Regions from separate parts of the Homo sapiens genome. Here region 1 is linked to region 2. A link means that fine-mapping ties the variant in region 2 to the expression of a gene that starts in the linked region. Tissue or cell type: testis. Region 2 holds a variant in brackets; the other region holds the start of a gene. All regions are shown on one strand. Distances are from middle to middle.

What was found. PIP is the estimated chance that this variant, and not a neighbour inherited with it, causes the effect.
Region 1: DCTN1 starts here. The variant in region 2 is fine-mapped to the expression of DCTN1 in testis (GTEx, PIP 0.97).

The regions. Positions count from the first base shown.
Region 1 is chr2:74,375,353-74,383,437 of GRCh38, reverse strand. It overlaps DCTN1 (dynactin subunit 1), which reads left to right and starts at 3,127. Exons shown (of 32, transcript NM_004082.5): 1 at 3,127-3,433; 2 at 5,193-5,438; 3 at 5,712-5,790; 4 at 5,972-6,006; 5 at 6,676-6,696. The coding sequence starts at 3,401. RefSeq lists an enhancer at 2,815-3,326.
Region 2 is chr2:74,402,797-74,410,897 of GRCh38, reverse strand. No RefSeq gene overlaps it. Among named protein-coding and RNA genes, the nearest start is that of C2orf81, 15 kb to the left of the region's middle. The variant AC/C (reference allele first, on the strand shown) is at 3,875.

The DNA.
Region 1 (8,085 bases), 27 kb after region 2:
GATCAAGTCCTTCTCTGTCTGCCTGATGTTAAACTCCGTGCCTACCCACAGTTACCTCCCAGTATGTTGCAATGTTATTCAATAAATGTTTATTCAATAAATATTTGACCATGAGCTACTTACTGGCTATTGGATCATAAAGAGGAAAAGGTGTGGGCTATGCTTCAAAAGGCTTATAGTTTGATAGAATAACCATCTACAATTCGTTACTTCAGCTAAGCTAGGGTTCTTTACTATTCGCTAGTCAAGCAAAGTTATTTCTGCCTCTGTTCATACTGTGTTCACAAGTTACAGGGCTTTGTAGGCCTTTCCACATATTTTTTATTTTTATTTTATTTATTTATTTTTTTTTTTTTGAGACGGAGTCTCGCTCTGTCGCCCAGGCGGGACTGCGGACTGCAGTGGCGCAATCTCGGCTCACTGCAAGCTCCGCTTCCCGGGTTCACGCCATTCTCCTGCCTCAGCCTCCCGAGTAGCTGGGACTACAGGCGCCCGCCACCGCGCCCGGCTAATTTTTTTTTGTATTTTTAGTAGAGACAGGGTTTCACCTTGTTAGCCAGGATGGTCTCGATCTCCTGACCTCATGATCCACCCGCCTCGGCCTCCCAAAGTGCTGGGATTACAGGCGTGAGCCACCGCGCCCGGCCTCCACATATTTTTTAAAATTCCCATAATTCAAGGCATGCTTAGGTACTCCCTTTCTTTCTAGCTCACCTCTCTCCTGTCTATAATTTCTTATATTTATTGTGTAGATGTATATACCATTTAGTATCATGTCAGGTAATTCTTTGCAGTTCTATAATTTCTGTACTTTTTACAAGGTGCTTTTTTTTTTTTTTTTTTGAGTCTCAGTCTGTCGCCCTGGCTGGAGTGCAGTGGTGCGACCTTGGCTCACTGCAACCTTCACCTCCCGGCTTCAAGCGATTCTCATGCCTATAGTCTCTCAAGTAGCTAGGATTATAGGTATGCGCCACCACACCCAGCTCATTTTTGTATTTTTAGTAGAGATAGGGTTTCACCATGTCAGCCAGGCTGGTCTTGAACTCCTGGTCTCAAGTGAGCCACCGGCCTCAGCCTCTCAAAGTGTTGGGATTACAGGCATGAGCCACCACACCTGGCCTACAAGGTACCTGTATATGCTTTAGCTTTTTTGAACCTCATGATACTGACGTAGATATGGCAGATATTATTTTCATTTCATAGGAAAATAAACAGATTCCAAGAAATTAGGGGACTATTGATACCTATGTGGTTAGTGAGTTGTGAGGCTATTTTTAGATCTGAGCTCTTTTGAATTTTTTAAGGCAGTGTGGCCTACAGGAAGAGCAGGGCCTTGGAAGCCTAGATATGTCTGTGGTAATGGTGAGGGGTAGTAGAAAGCACAGAGGGCTCTGGGTCAGGTTGTTTCCAGTTTTGGCTCTACTCCTCACAGTCTGTGTGTCTTCAGGGAAGTTGCTCAGTTCTCAAAGACTCAGTTGCCTTGTCAGCATCATCCCTGGCCAACCTCTCAATGGGGTTATTGTAATGTCTATATATGATGACATTGTTCTTAGCTAACTTTTATTTAGCACTTATTAAATACCAGGCGGTGTCCTGGATGCTTTGTTTGGATTATCTCAGCTAATCCTCACGATACCTCTCTGAGATATGTTCTTTGTTACTTCCCTATGACGGATGAGGAAATTGAGGCATAGAGATGTTAAGTAACTAGACCAAGTTTATGTAGCTACCAAGTGATAAAGCCAGGAAAGTAGCCTGAGTCTAGAACCAGTACTCAACCATGGTTCTATAAAATGTCTTTTTTTAAGGTGTCCTATAGACTGTAAAGTGCTCCGAACATGTGAGGTCCAGGCTGCAAGGATGTGCCTGGCCCTGCCCACCTGTGTAATGGCGAATAGGGAAAGGAGGGGGCGACATGGAGATTTTGCAGGGAGGAGAGAGATTATTTCCTAGGGGGTCTGGCCAGGACTGAAGATTTGGAATTGTGTTTTGGGGCCATATTTCTGAATGTTGGCTGTCATTCTCCTGTTGGGCTACCTGGCCTATCTTAAGAGGGTAGAGCGGGGTAAAGTCACTGTTCTGCCAGTGAAGTAAGCCCAGTGCAGAAAAGACAGGCGTCCCTAGGCCCAAGGGAACTAGATCCATACCATACTCAGTGGAGCCATAGGTCAGACCCCAGGCCAACCTTGTTGGCTGTGTAGGGGCAGGGACCCTGGTCTTTTGGTTTCTAGCCCATGATAGATGGGCCAGTGAATGAAAGCAGTGTGGTAACATAGTCCCTTGGAGACCTCTCATTAGAATGCATAATCTCATTAAATTAAACAATTCTAATTATAAAAGTAATACATGGTTACTGAAGAATTTTTGTGAAATACAAAAGCGTAGAAAATAAACCATTTCATTGGGTCTGAGATGCTAGGAGGCAAGGCCAAGAGTACAAGGGGCAGATGACTGAGGTGGACTGGGCCTTGTGCTACAAGAAGAAAGAAGGGCTCTCTGCTTTTGACTACTGCCTTTAGTAATCCAGTTGAGTCTGATACTCTTGTGTTTTACAACCTGGCCCCTTATAACAACCATAAAGGGTGAAGGGTGACTATGGCAACCTTTGCCAGCCTTGTGGGAGGGGGCTAGGGTACTTGGCTTGCTTTGCTATGTGTGTGAAGTTGCCTTCATTACTGCCCTTCTCTTGCTGCCTCCTGGGCAGGGCCTGCCTCCTCTGGCTCAGTGTGAGATTGAAATCCAGGCCCTACTCACATGAATTTGGACCCTGAGTCCAGAGTTTAGAGAGGGGAGGGAGAGAGAAGAGCACCAGAAAGGTAGATGAGAGACCCTTATTTTGGCTGTGTGGAGGCTCTAGGCAGCTGATCGCTTTGAAGTGTCACTTGATGCTTATGGGCCTGCTGAGGCCTTACATCCTGGGGGAGAGGGGAACAGTGATGGTGAGTGGGTACAGACTAGGAGGACGTGTCAAGACTGCTTCCAGCCCTAGGACAGTGTATTCAAGAGTTGAGTGCTGAGGGTCTGTGGCGTATGCCCAGCCCTTAGTTTCTGGCCCACGTGAAGCAGGGGGGCACTAGGACCCAGAGGCTAGCACGGTTCCTGACAAGTCTAGAGCAGCACTAGCGCAGAGTGAGACTCATCAGCTGGCAAGCAGGATTCTGTGTCTCTGGGTTCAGGAATCCTCAGGCAGCAGAGGGGACTTGCTCCTCAGCCCCCATCACTGCCCCCACCCCTACCCGTGTAGGCCACCGAGTGAGGCCCATGGACTGGGGAGGGCTGTGCCTGACGACTCCTGTGTCCCTCTATGAGGGCCCAGCGCCCTGACCCTCCTGCCTAGGTTTCTACCTTTTCTCTCTGTCTTTGGCCAGCTGGGGGAGGGGGTAGAGGCCGGGTGAGCAACATGGCACAGAGCAAGAGGCACGTGTACAGCCGGGTAAGTGGCCCTAATCTGGGATGGCCCTGGAGGGCTGCTGGGGAAGGCCTGGCTGCCTGTGGACATCATTGCTGTGGGGGCTGGGGAGATAGGCTGGAGCTCAGCTGAGGGCACTCAGACTGTGTTTTCTAAGGAGCCCTCGAAGCCCTGGTGGTGTAAGGCTGGACAGGCTTCCCTTTACAGAGTTGATCCCTAAATGGGGACTAGCAAGGCCTGACCTCTGACTCTAATTGGCCCTCATACCAGGGGCTCCTGAGGGGGTCCAGACTATCCTGGGGACTCAGAATGGGGATGATGGCTCAGAGAGGTCTTACAGTGAAGCCTTTCTTAAGAGCTGCTTTGTTATTTGTTACTTGCTTTCTTTCTCTTCTGAGATAGAATCTGTAGCTACTGTTGTGGCCCCCTGGTTCTGAGAGGCTTATTGGGGTTGGAAAGTGGGGGAGTCTCTGACTTTGGGTTCAGCCTTTTATATCACTGGCAATTCCTTTTATTGTCAGGTCCATGAGAGCCATCCTGCTGTTCCAGGTGTGATTTGGGGTCCTGGAGCCTCTGGGAACTACATCCTCACCTTCCTGGATGAGCTGTTTGGGGAAGGGAATTAGGCAGTGATAGGCTGGGAGGTGTCCTGGCTCTTCCCTGGCTCTGCCAGGGCTCCCTTCTGAAGCTATTATAAATGAGAGTATCAGAAGGGTCTCCCATAGAGTCTTTAGGATGATGGTATCACTTCATCATGCCTCATTCATCTGTTTGCTGCAAGGCCCCTGGTTCATGGAGTTGCTGTTGCTAAAAATGACCTAAGTGTGATTTTCTTCTAAACCATGGGCCTATTTGGGACCTAATTTTCTATTGTGTTCAGTCATCATGGGTGTGCCGAAGCTAAGAGCTGCCCAAGGACAGTGTCTTAGTCTGTTGTTTTGCCTTGCCCATCTGTGGAGTGATAAACCATTCATTTGGACCACTGAGCAGAGTCTTGGGGACAGAGCGAGGGGTAGATCCACCCAATTTACTTGGCCTGTGTTTTCCTTTTTATAGCAACATAGCATGGAGAAGAATCTCCAGAGCTTGGGGATAGAGAGTTGACCAAACAAGACTCAGGCCAGGTAGAAGGGGAGTTGAATGGTTGAATGGGCTGTGGTGAAGCATCTGGGGTTTCATGGTGGGTTTGTGGATGGGGGTGGGAGGAGTCAGATCAGGAAGGAGAGGTGGTGACTTAAGGGTCTGGAAGGAGGCACAATTGTGTGCCTCTGAAAGGGTGAGGCCTAAGAAAACCATTTGAAACACAGAGGAGACAAGTGACAGTGGAAGGGGAAACAGGATTCTGTAGGATCACCCACTGAATTGCCTGTCTTCCCAGCTCAGACTCCTGAGTCAGGGCATTGGGTTGTGGGGAGCCTGGTCTAAACTGAGTTATTTGCTTGATCTTATTTCCCCTCCTGAGAAGAGAATTAAGGAGACAGTGCTCCTGAGAAAGCAGCCATGTGGTGACATTCACAGACTGGTCAATGAATTCTGATTTGTTATAAAAAATATAAACTTAAAAATTCTAGCAGATTCCAGAGGAATTTGGAGAAATCTTAGAATATCATTGGCATTTTTTCAAAGGGGAATTTGGGGGTCCACCCAATTCTGTAAATGGGGTTTAAGAAAATGACTCTGGTTGTTTTTCAGTCCAGCATCTTGGCTGAGGCATTTCTTATACATAAGAATGCCACCTTTGATCTGAGGCCTCTAACTGTCTGTGTTTACCTGTGTCTTTCAGACGCCCAGCGGCAGCAGGATGAGTGCGGAGGCAAGCGCCCGGCCTCTGCGGGTGGGCTCCCGTGTAGAGGTGATTGGAAAAGGCCACCGAGGCACTGTGGCCTATGTTGGAGCCACACTGTTTGCCACTGGCAAATGGGTAGGCGTGATTCTGGATGAAGCAAAGGGCAAAAATGATGGAACTGTTCAAGGCAGGAAGTACTTCACTTGTGATGAAGGGCATGGCATCTTTGTGCGCCAGTCCCAGGTATTCACGCCCTTCTTTTGTGTCTGTGCATGTGTGCACATGTCTGTCGCATGTGCAGCTGATGTGTTGGTACTTCGTTTTCCTGAGCATGGGCATAAGCCTCTGGTTGGGAGAGTGGAAGGTAGTGGGGGAGGGAAGATTGAAGATGCATCCTTAGGGAAGCTGCCCTGTACTCTTGGTTTGCTTGGAGCCTGGGGAGGGGCCCATATTACAGCCGTCCTTGATCTGGCTATATTGAAACTATTGATCTGGCTATATTGAATCTGGCCTCAGATCCAGGTATTTGAAGATGGAGCAGATACTACTTCCCCAGAGACACCTGATTCTTCTGCTTCAAAAGTCCTCAAAAGAGGTAACAACCACCCACTTAAAGTTGCCTCCCCATAGCCAGGAGGAGTCCCCAGGACTTCTCCTCATAACATGGGGCCACAGTAGATCCTAAGATTTTTTTCCGTCACTACCATATTCCCTTATTATATCTCCCCCTACCTCTCTATACAAGTACACACTTTGTTTCTGTTTGCTTTCTACAGAGGGAACTGATACAACTGCAAAGACTAGCAAACTGGTGAGTGATTTGGGGGTGGGAATGGGGAATAATAAAGGGAGGGGAAGGAGAAAGAGGAGGGATACCCAGTGCTAGGCAGGTAGAAGTAGTAGGTGAGTCTGATTTGCCTTCTAGTCTCTCCAACTTCCCTAAGAAGGAGGCTTTCTGGGGATTAATTGCTGTGTTAGAGTTACAGTAAAGATGGTAGAAGGGAAAAACTCATAGGCTCCAGAAGTTCAGGGTCAAATGAGATTGAGCTGAGGGTGATAGGAAGGACAGGTCTGGCCCTAGTAGTGTAGCCAACTTCCTACCTTTTGGTACCCAAAGATGCCAACATCTAAAGGGTCTGAGGGTAAGGTTAAGGTAGAAGATAGAGGAAGAAGCAATCTCCTATTCACAAGTGAATGGCAAGGAGCCGGGCCCTCTGCCTCCTGTTTTAAGCTGGATGCAGAGAGTGCTTCCTAGTTCTTCTCTGCTACTCTGTGCAGGATGTGTGTGAGGTGGGGCTGCAGACTCTGCAGCTTCTCTGGGCCAAGGTGTGAACATCCTGGAAGCTGATCTTTGAGGGGCTACTCATCTCACCCTGACTCCCCCCTACCCGCGTCTAACCTGTGTAAGCCCGAGTTGGTCTTAACACCTATGCCCAGGACATCTGTTCTCTAACTCTGCCCTTTCCTACTCCTCATGCAGCGGGGACTGAAGCCTAAGAAGGTGGTGTGTTTACTATTTGTGCCTGGGTGGATGGGGGCCATGAGCCCCTTCCCCAGCTGTCCTGCATGTCCCTGGGCTGCTGCATGCATGTGTGTGTGACCTTGGGCTGGGATGGCCAGAGGAAATGGTGGCCTTGGCTTTCAGAGTTCCTTTGAAGGGTGCAAGAACATCAGGCTCAGTGTCCATACCCAGGTAGCACTCATTAGGGATGATTCTCTCTGCCCCAGGACTCCAAGTCAAAGATTCCCCAATCAAAAACTATAAGCATTTGACTGTAAATAGCAGCAGTGTGAAATAGATCATTTACTGGGTTACAGTGTGTTCTCACTTAGCCCGAGCTTGGACGACTGTGGAAGGATAGACTGGGGGAATGGGGCTGAGGAAGGTACCAAGTGAGGGGGTTTTGCAGGAAGATGGGAGGTCAGGGAACAGAGCCTAGGAAGAACAGTCCCAAGTTGGAAAACCTAAGAGCCTTCATGTGCCTGCCTGTGGATGGGCACAGCCATAAATATCCCCACACCCCACAACTCTGCCCCATCAGTCTGTCCCTGTCTCCTTCCTCTGGTGGTGTGCCTGAGGCCTACCTCCTACCCCTTGCAGCCTTTCATCAACCATCATTGGAGTGGGGCTCAATCATGTCACGTCCCCTCCCCTTCCCACCATAGACTCTTTAAACTCTTAGATCACTGCCATGACCACTTCCTCAAACCAGCCCCTGCCTTGGGCCTCTGCCCAAGCTGTTTTTGACCTGCATGTGCCTGTCTGGCCTGTATGTACTGTGCTGTATGTACAATTCTGTGATTTCCTTGTCGTCAGCCTATCTCAGGCCATTCTGACATTGCATGGAGAGCTGCTGGATTGGGGCTGTGGGAGGGAAGAGGAAAACATCTCCTTTTCCAGGGGGAAACCAGCTCCTGGTTGGTGATGGGTCCTTTGGAGTCTTGCCATGGTAGAGACCACATGCTGGTACTTGCTTTGGTAGGGAATGGGGATATAAGGAAAATAATGCTGTGAAGGATCCTGGGCCCATTTCAGAGTCATAGAAACTTGGCTTTGTCCTTTGATTATTGTCTCCTGGTTGGGGCTTCCATTTCACCTCAGGCCTTGAATAGAGAAGAGCATGAAACTATGGTCTGATATTTATGGAGTTCTGGCCCCAGCCTGGTCTGACCCTGGGCTGGGGCCTGAGCAATGCCCAAATCCAGGGGCTTTGGCAGCTGCCTGGGGAAATGTGAAAAAGCCCAGCCTAGGCCACCCATGCTGCCCTTCTGCACTCACGTTGGAAAGTGTCAATCAGACAGTTGAGTGCCCCCACCCCGGAGCACCCCAGTCTTCCTCTCCAGTAGTTATTTTTCAAAGCAGAGGGCCCCTGCTCTCACCCATGTGGAT
Region 2 (8,101 bases):
CTGTCTGCAAATTTAAAGTCCATTGTCTTCTTTAAGAATAATTTTCTTTCCAGCAAATTTTGGCTAAATACCACCTGCTCAGTTTCTCATTTGTAATTTGTAATTTTTAAATTTTATTTTGTATTAATTTTTTTTTCTGGGGAGAGAAGGAGCAGTGCTGGAAGCAGTCCATGCAGCAGGCTGGCCTCCCACTGAGTGAGTCTTAATTTCAAAATAGTTTTAGCATTTTAAAAACAATACTGTAAACTCATATGTGACAACAACTATTTTTTATACTTTACATAATCCAGACTTTTTTTTTTTTTTTTTTTTTTTTGGAGACGGAGTTTCGCTCTTGTTTACCAGGTTGGAGTACAGTGGCGCGATCTCGGCTCACTGCAACCTCCGCCTCTTGGGTTCAAGCGATTCTCCTGCTTCACCCTCCCGAGTAGCTGGGATTACAGGTGCCCAACACCATGCCTGGCTAATTTTTTGTATTTTTGCTAGATACGGGGTTTTGCCATGTTGGGCAGGCTGGTCTCAAACTCCTGACCTCAGGCCTCCCACCTTGGCCTCAAACTCTCGCCTTGGCCTCCCAAAGTGCTGGGATTACAGGCATCAGCCACCACACCCAGCCAATCCAGACTTTTTTGTATACTTATTGATATGGTTTGGCTCTGTGTCCCCACCCAAATCTCATCTCCAGCTGTAATCCCCATATGTAGAGGGAGGGACCTGGTGGGAAGTGATTGGGTCATGGGGGCAGTTCCCCCGTGCTGTTCTTGTGATATTGAGAGAGATCTCACAAGATTTGATGGTTTTAAAAGTGGCAGTTTTGACCTGGTGCGGTGGCTCACGCCTGTAATCCCAGCACTTTGGGAGGCCGAGGTGGGTGGATCACGAGGTCAGGAGATGGAGACCATCCTGGCTAACACGGTGAAACCCCGTTTCTACTAAAAATACAAAAAAAAAAATTAGCCAGGCGTGGTGGCGGGCGCTTGTAGTCCCAGCTACTCGGGAGGCTGAGGCAGGAGAATGGCGTGAACCCAGGAGGCGGAGCTTGCAGTGAGCCGAGATCGCGCCACTGCACTCCAGCCTGGGCGACAGAGCAAGACTCCGACTCAAAAAAAATAAAAAATAAAAAATAAATAAAAAGTGGCAGTTTTCCCCTGCCTGCTCTCTGTCTCTTCTGCCACCACGTAAGACATGCCTTGCTTCCCCTTTGTCTTCCACCATGATTATAAGTTTCCCGAGGTCTCCCCAGCCATGCAGAGTTGTGAGTCAATTAAACCACTTTTGTTTATAAATTACCCAGTCTCAGGTAGCATCTTAATAGTGGTGTGAGAACAGACTAAAACACTTATGTACTATTTTAAACATTTTTTTTAAGATTTAACTTTAGGATTTTAATTTTGTTTTTGTTTGAAACATAGTTGGTTTTTTTTTTTTTAAATATTAAGCTTGTTAATAGTTTTCCAGTGATGACCTTCCCTAGCTTTGTTTCTTTAAAAACATTTTCTCAAGTATCTCTGCACACATATTTCTTTTCCCCCAAACCTAGCACCGTTATGTCCTTAGCACCTAGCTTAGTGTCTGCCATATTCCAGGTGCCTAATGAACATTTGTGGGATGGATAAATGAAGGAATGAATGTATGAATACATGAAAGCAACTTTCACAGTGTTTCCAGCTTCTCCTTCCCCTTCTTAGCCATCAGTGAAATAAAACATATAAATGAGGATCAATTAAGGTAGCTCCAACTAGCAAGTAGAAGAAAAGAAAGGCAAAACTCCAAACACTAATATGAAAGAAGAAGAAGATCATTAGGAAGGCAGCTAATAATGAAAATGAGGTCCCAGCTAACATTAAGCTCTCCTATGCCTAGCCCAGGTTTCTGGATAGGGACCCCACTGCCCCTTCTTAGAGAGCCCTGCTCTCCTATCTTCTGGAGAAGCAGGTTGGGGAGTGAGCATGGGAGTTTACTCTAGAACTTGGATTGAAGCAGTGTGGTCCCTCCCATCTCTACCCAGGGGCCCTACGACAGGCAGGGTCAGCCCCAGTGGTGAATGTGTCTTCCGTTCGGCATGCACATGGGTACATTGATGAGGGGCACCTGACAGGCTGGAGGCCCTTTGACCTTTAACCAAAACTATGACTGCAGCAAACTGCTATTGACTTCATTCACTGGAGAGCTTGCCCAGAGACTTCAAGGAAGAGGTAACTGCCTCTGACACCCCTTACTCCACTCCCAGCACCACCTCCCAACCTTTCGCATCTCCTGCCAACATGTCCTGGCCATAAAGTACTCCCAATGTGCCCCAAACCAGCATTTTATTCCACTCCAACTATCATCTTTGTACCCTCTATTTCTCTCAACCCTGTATTCACATCATTTCAACCTTTTCCCACTCTTTTCATCTCCCACAATATTTCTTTCCTGCTGGTGTTTTCCAATACCAGCATCGTCCACCATGTTCCTCCTACAGTTCACCCAACACTTCCAATACCCATCCTTCCTTACTGGCTTGGGTACCATTAAGGTAAGCTACAGAGCACCAGTGTCCCCTGCACCACCCTCAAGTCACTGGTCAACACTACCCAACAGACTTGGTAGGATTTGCACGCTGCTGAACTACACTTAACCCCTTTTATCGGTCATCCTCCTCTCTCTTCACTTTGCACTCTCCTTGTGTCTCACCTTCTTAGGAATGACTGTGAATGCTGTGGAGCCCGGTGTTGTATACATGGGGATTATGAGGCATTTCTCTTAGCCATAATGCTTCCTCTTCTAGCTTGTCAGCTTCTTCATGAAGGTAGGTGGGGGAAAGAACTGGTTTGGCCTAGAGGAATGGGGCAGGGCTCAACTTCTCAGTGTGTCCCAGCAGGCCAAAGTTTGCCTGGCATGACTTCTTTTTCGCTTGTCCCTCCCAACAGGATCTCAAACAAGGTGTACTCCCAGTCCTCTACTTGAGCTTGGCAGAGGAGCCGGGTGGTATTTCTGGAAAATATTTCAGCAGTTCCTGTGTGATAACTCTTCCCGTTAAAGCCTCTCGGGATCCTCATGTTGCCCAGAGCCTCTGGAATGCCTCAGTCCGACTGACAAGCCTAGTCAAGATGGACTGACCCTCTGTGACCTCTGCCCTAACTTGCCACCCTGCCTCTAACTTCCAGCACTTACTCTGATTATGCCCTTTGTTTGCTGGCTTCTAGGACCAATTACTGTCCAGTATAATGACCACTTCCTATGCCTGTTGGCTTAGTGATGACTTGAGAGTCAAGAATAGTCGGGGCCAGCTGCGATGGCTCACACCTGTAATCCCAATGCTTTGGGAGGCTGAGGTAGGCAGATTGCTTGAGCTCAGGAGTTCATGACCAGCCTAGAGCAACATGGAAAAACCCCATCTCTACAAAAAAATACAAAAATTAGCTGAGCAGGGTGGTGTGTTCCTGTGGTCCCAGTTATTTGGGAGTGGAAGGTGGGAGGACTGCATTGAGACCGGGAGGTCGAGGCTGCAGTGAGCCAAGATGGCACCACTGCACTCCAGCCTGGGTGACAGAGCAAGACCCTGTCTCAAAAAGAAAAAAAAAAAAGAATAATTCACACAGTTTAATCTTCCACTTTATTGCCAGTTAGCCGGTGGAAGTATTCATCTTTTGGGAACTAGGATCTCCCAACCTACCGGGTGCTGTGGTGGGTTGTGGTAACTTGAAGTAAGACTCCTTCCGGGGAGCGCTGGGGATACCAGTAAGAAGGGAAACTTTCATTTGTACCTCTTGATTCCCAGACCTGTGCTTCTTGCCTATGGGGAAGATAGCCCCACACAGTGACCTCTGGATTAAGGCATTTACCACATCCTGTAGCACAGCACCCCAACCTCACAGGGAGTTGTCTCCCA[AC/C]TAGTATTGTACTGAGCCTGCTCTGGGTGATGAGTCATAAAATCCAGTTAATTTAGGGAGTATGAGTCCATTGCTCCTTTTCTGGGATCTTTGTTCATGTATATAAATTTTAGAATCAGCTCTTTGAATTTCACACACACACACACACACACACACACACACACACACACACACACACATCCTGTTGGGGATTGCATTGAATCTATAGATATACTTGGGAGGATTGACATTTTTATGAGATTGAGGCTTCCTAACCATGGACAAGGTTGACTCTTATATCTATTTAAATCTTCTAAATACCTGTACAAAATTTTAAATAATTTTATCCACAAAGATCTTGTACAGAAGTTTTACTGCATTTATATTCAGGCACTTTCATTTTTATGCTATTATAAATGATATTTTAAAATGTGTATATCTGTTGACGGCTGTGTGAAACCTCAGTTCTTAGTTTGAAAGAATTTAAACAAGGGACACAGCAAAAGAAGTGCAGCATAGAGTAATTTATTGCACAAGAAAAAGAATATTTTGAAAGGTAGGTGCAGAACAGACAGTACACCGAAAGTGAGAGAATTCAGGGCAGGCTGCTCATAAGGATGAGACAGCAAAGACTGGCACTAGGGAGACTCTTATGGAAGTCTGACATGATTATTCATGAGGTGGGAAGAGGTGTTACTAGTAAGCATGTTCTGGGTGGTCCTCTGGGTGTGGATGTGCAGTAGCTGTATATGCTTGTTCATATGTCACATGTCTCATTAGCATCTTCAATATCCAGGGGTGTACTTTTTACTAATAAAATGAGCAAAGGGTCAGTTTGAGGACAGGTAAATCAAACTGCACATGCTGTCTGCAGGGGAAATTCCCTACTGAAGATAGCTTTGCTTGAATGAGCTCAGTTACAATGCATATGCTGAGGTTTATTGTGTTGATTGTACAGTCACCACTGTTGCTGCCTTGACTACTTGGTCACTTCCTTGACTACCTCTCCTGCCTCATATTGATCTTATATCAAACAACTTTATTAAGTTATCTAGTTCTAATAAGTCGTCCATAGATTCTCTTGGTTTTTCTACATGGAAAATCACATCATCCAGGAATAATCACAGTTTTATTTCTTCCTTTGTAACTATTCCAACTTATATTTCTTTTTCTAGAAAACTTTAATAGATTTTCTAGTATTGAAACAACCTTACATTTCTGGAATAAACCCAACTTTGTAATAGTGTTACCTTTTTTATGCATTGCTAAACAGCCTGCTCATTTTTTTTAAAACTTTTTACTATGTTCATAAAGGAGATTGGCCCAAATAAATAAATAGAAAAAAGAAAAAATAGTAAAGGAGATTGGCCTGTATTTTTCCTTATTTATGTGGAAACTGCCTAGTTTTGTTGTTATGAGTACTTTTTTTTTTTTTTTTGAGACAGAGTCTCTCTCTGTCGCCCAGGGTGGAGTGCAGTGGTGCGATCTAGGCTCACTGCAACCTCCGCCTCCCGGGCTCAAGCAATTCTCCTGCCTCAGCCTCCCGAGTAGCTGGGATTACAGGCATGAGCCACCACGCCCGGCCTAGAATTTTTAATCTACATATTTAACTTAATGTCTTTAATCAATATCTTCATTCTTCTTTAAAACAATTCATAGATTTTAGAGTTCTTTAACATTAATAATTCTCTTTGAATTTATACATTTTTGTAACCCTATATTTTAATTCTACTATTTTATTAATCTCACAAATCAGATATTATTATTATTATTATTATTTTTTTTTTTTGAGACTGAGTTTCGCTCTTGTTGCCCAGGCTGGAGTGCAATGGCGCAATCTCAGCTCACTGCAACCTCCGCCTCCCAGGTTCACGCAATTCTCCTGCCTCAGTAATCCCGAGTAGCTGGGATTACAGGCATGCACCACCAGGCCTGGCTAATTTTTTTTTTTTTTTTGTATTTTTAGTAGAGACAGGGTATCTCCATGCTGAGGCTGGTCTCGAACTCCTGACCTCAGGTGATCCGCCCACCTTGGCCTCCCAAAGTGCTGGGATTACAGGTGTGAGCCACCATGCCTGGCCACAAATCAGATATTATTTTAAATAGGTGATACTTGTATAGGTTTGCTCATATGTTTAATGTTAATACTTAATATTGCTTGCTCTTCTTTCTTGTATCTCAGATCTTCCATCTTGTGTTATTTTCCTTCTACCTGAAGTACATCTTTAGAAGTTACTTTAGGCCAGGCTTAGTGGCTCATGCCTGTAATCCCACCACTTTGGGAGACTGAAGCGGGTGGATTGCTTGAGGACAGGAGTTTGAGACCAGCCTGGGCAACATGGTGAAACCCCGTCTCTCAAAAATGCAAAAATTAGCCGAGTGTGGTGGCACGTTCCTGTAGTCCCAGCTATTCAGGAGGCTGAGGTGGGAGAATCACCTGAGCCCAGGAGGTCAAGTCTGCAGTGAGCTGTGATCACGTCATTGCACTCCAGCTTAGGTGACAGAGTGAGACCCTCTCTTTCTCTCTCAAAAGAAAGTTACTTTAGTGAGGATTTGTGGTAGACAGAATTCTAAGATGGCCTCCAAAGTTCTCATCTTTTGTTTATGTACCCTATAAAATCCCCCTTCCCCTTAAGTCTGAGCAGAACTCGTGAATATGATGGGATTTCTCTCCTGTGATTACGTTATTTACCTGACATAAGGGATTTTTCTGATGTAGTTAAAGTCTCTAATCAGTTAATCAAATTGGTGATTATTTTGGGTGGACCTGACTTAATGAAGTGAGCCCTTTAAAAGGCTTCAAGCCTTTACAGAAGTTAGAAAGATTCTCTCCTTTACCTTAAAGAAGCAAATTGCTACACTGTGGAGAGGGCCACATGGCAGGGATGGCAGATGGCCTCTGGGAGCCAGGCCTCAGTTCTATAGTCACAACAAATTGAATTCTGCCAATAACCAGTGAGCTTGAAAGAGGACCCTGAACTTCAATGAGCTTTCAACCCTGGATGACTTCTTGATTTCAGCCTGGTGACCTCCTGAGTGGAGGACCCAGCAAACATGTACCCAGACTCCCGACCCACAGAAACTGTGAGATAATAAATGTGTTTTTTTAAAAAATAAACATATTTATTATATTTTTTAGAGACAGGCTCTCTCTCTGTCACCCAAGCTGGAATGCAGTGGCACTATCACAGCTCACAGCAACCTCACACTCCTGGCTCAAGCAATCCTTCTGCCTCTCTGCCTCCCAAGTAACTGGGACTACAGGAGCATGCCACCACTCTGGCTAATTATTATTTTTTATTTTTTATTTTTTCAGAGGTAATCGAGTTAGAATTAAATTTTTTTTTCTTTTATAGAGATGGGGATTCTTGTTATGTTGCCCAGGCTGGTCTCAAATTGCTGGCCTCACAGGATCCTCTTGCCTTGGCCTCCAAAGTGGTGGGATCACAGGCATGAGCCATCATGCCTGACCTATGTTGCTTCACCCACTGAATTTATAGTAATTTGTTATGTAGCAATAGAAAACTAATATAAGATCTAATATAATAAACTTCCTCAGTTTTATTTGTTGGAGGATGTATTTATTTCACCTTAATGTTGGGGTATCAGTTTGCTACTGGCTAAGGAATTATAGGTTGACAGTTTTTTTGTTTTGTTTTGTTTTTTTGTTTGTTTGTTTTGAGACGGAGTCTCGCTCTGTCGCCCAGGCTGAAGGGCAGTGGCGCGATCTCGGCTCACTGCAAGCTCCGCCTCCCGGGTTCACGCCATTCTCCTGCCTCAGCCTCCCGAGTAGCTGGGATTATAGGCGCCCGCCATCACACCTGGCTAATTTTTTGTATTTTTTTTTGTTTTGTTTTGTTTTTAGTAGACACGGGGTTTCACCCTGTTAGCCAGGATGGTCTCCATCTCCTGACCTCGTGATCCGCCTACCTCGGCCTCCCAAAGTGCTAGGATTACAGGCGTGAGCCACTGCGCCCGGCCGACAGTTTTTGTGTGTTTTTTTTAATCCTGTTAAATATAGTATTGCTTTTTTTTTCTTTTCTTTTTTTTTTTTTTTTCGAGATGGGAGTTTCGCTCTTGTTGCCCAGGCTGGAGTGCAATGGCGCGATCTCGGCTCACCGAAACCTCCGCCTCCCGGGTTCAAGTGATTCTTCTGCCTCCCGAGTAGCTGGGATTACAGGCACGCGCCGCCACGCCTGGCTAATTTTGTATTTTTAGTAGAGATGGGGTTTCTCCATGTTGGTCAG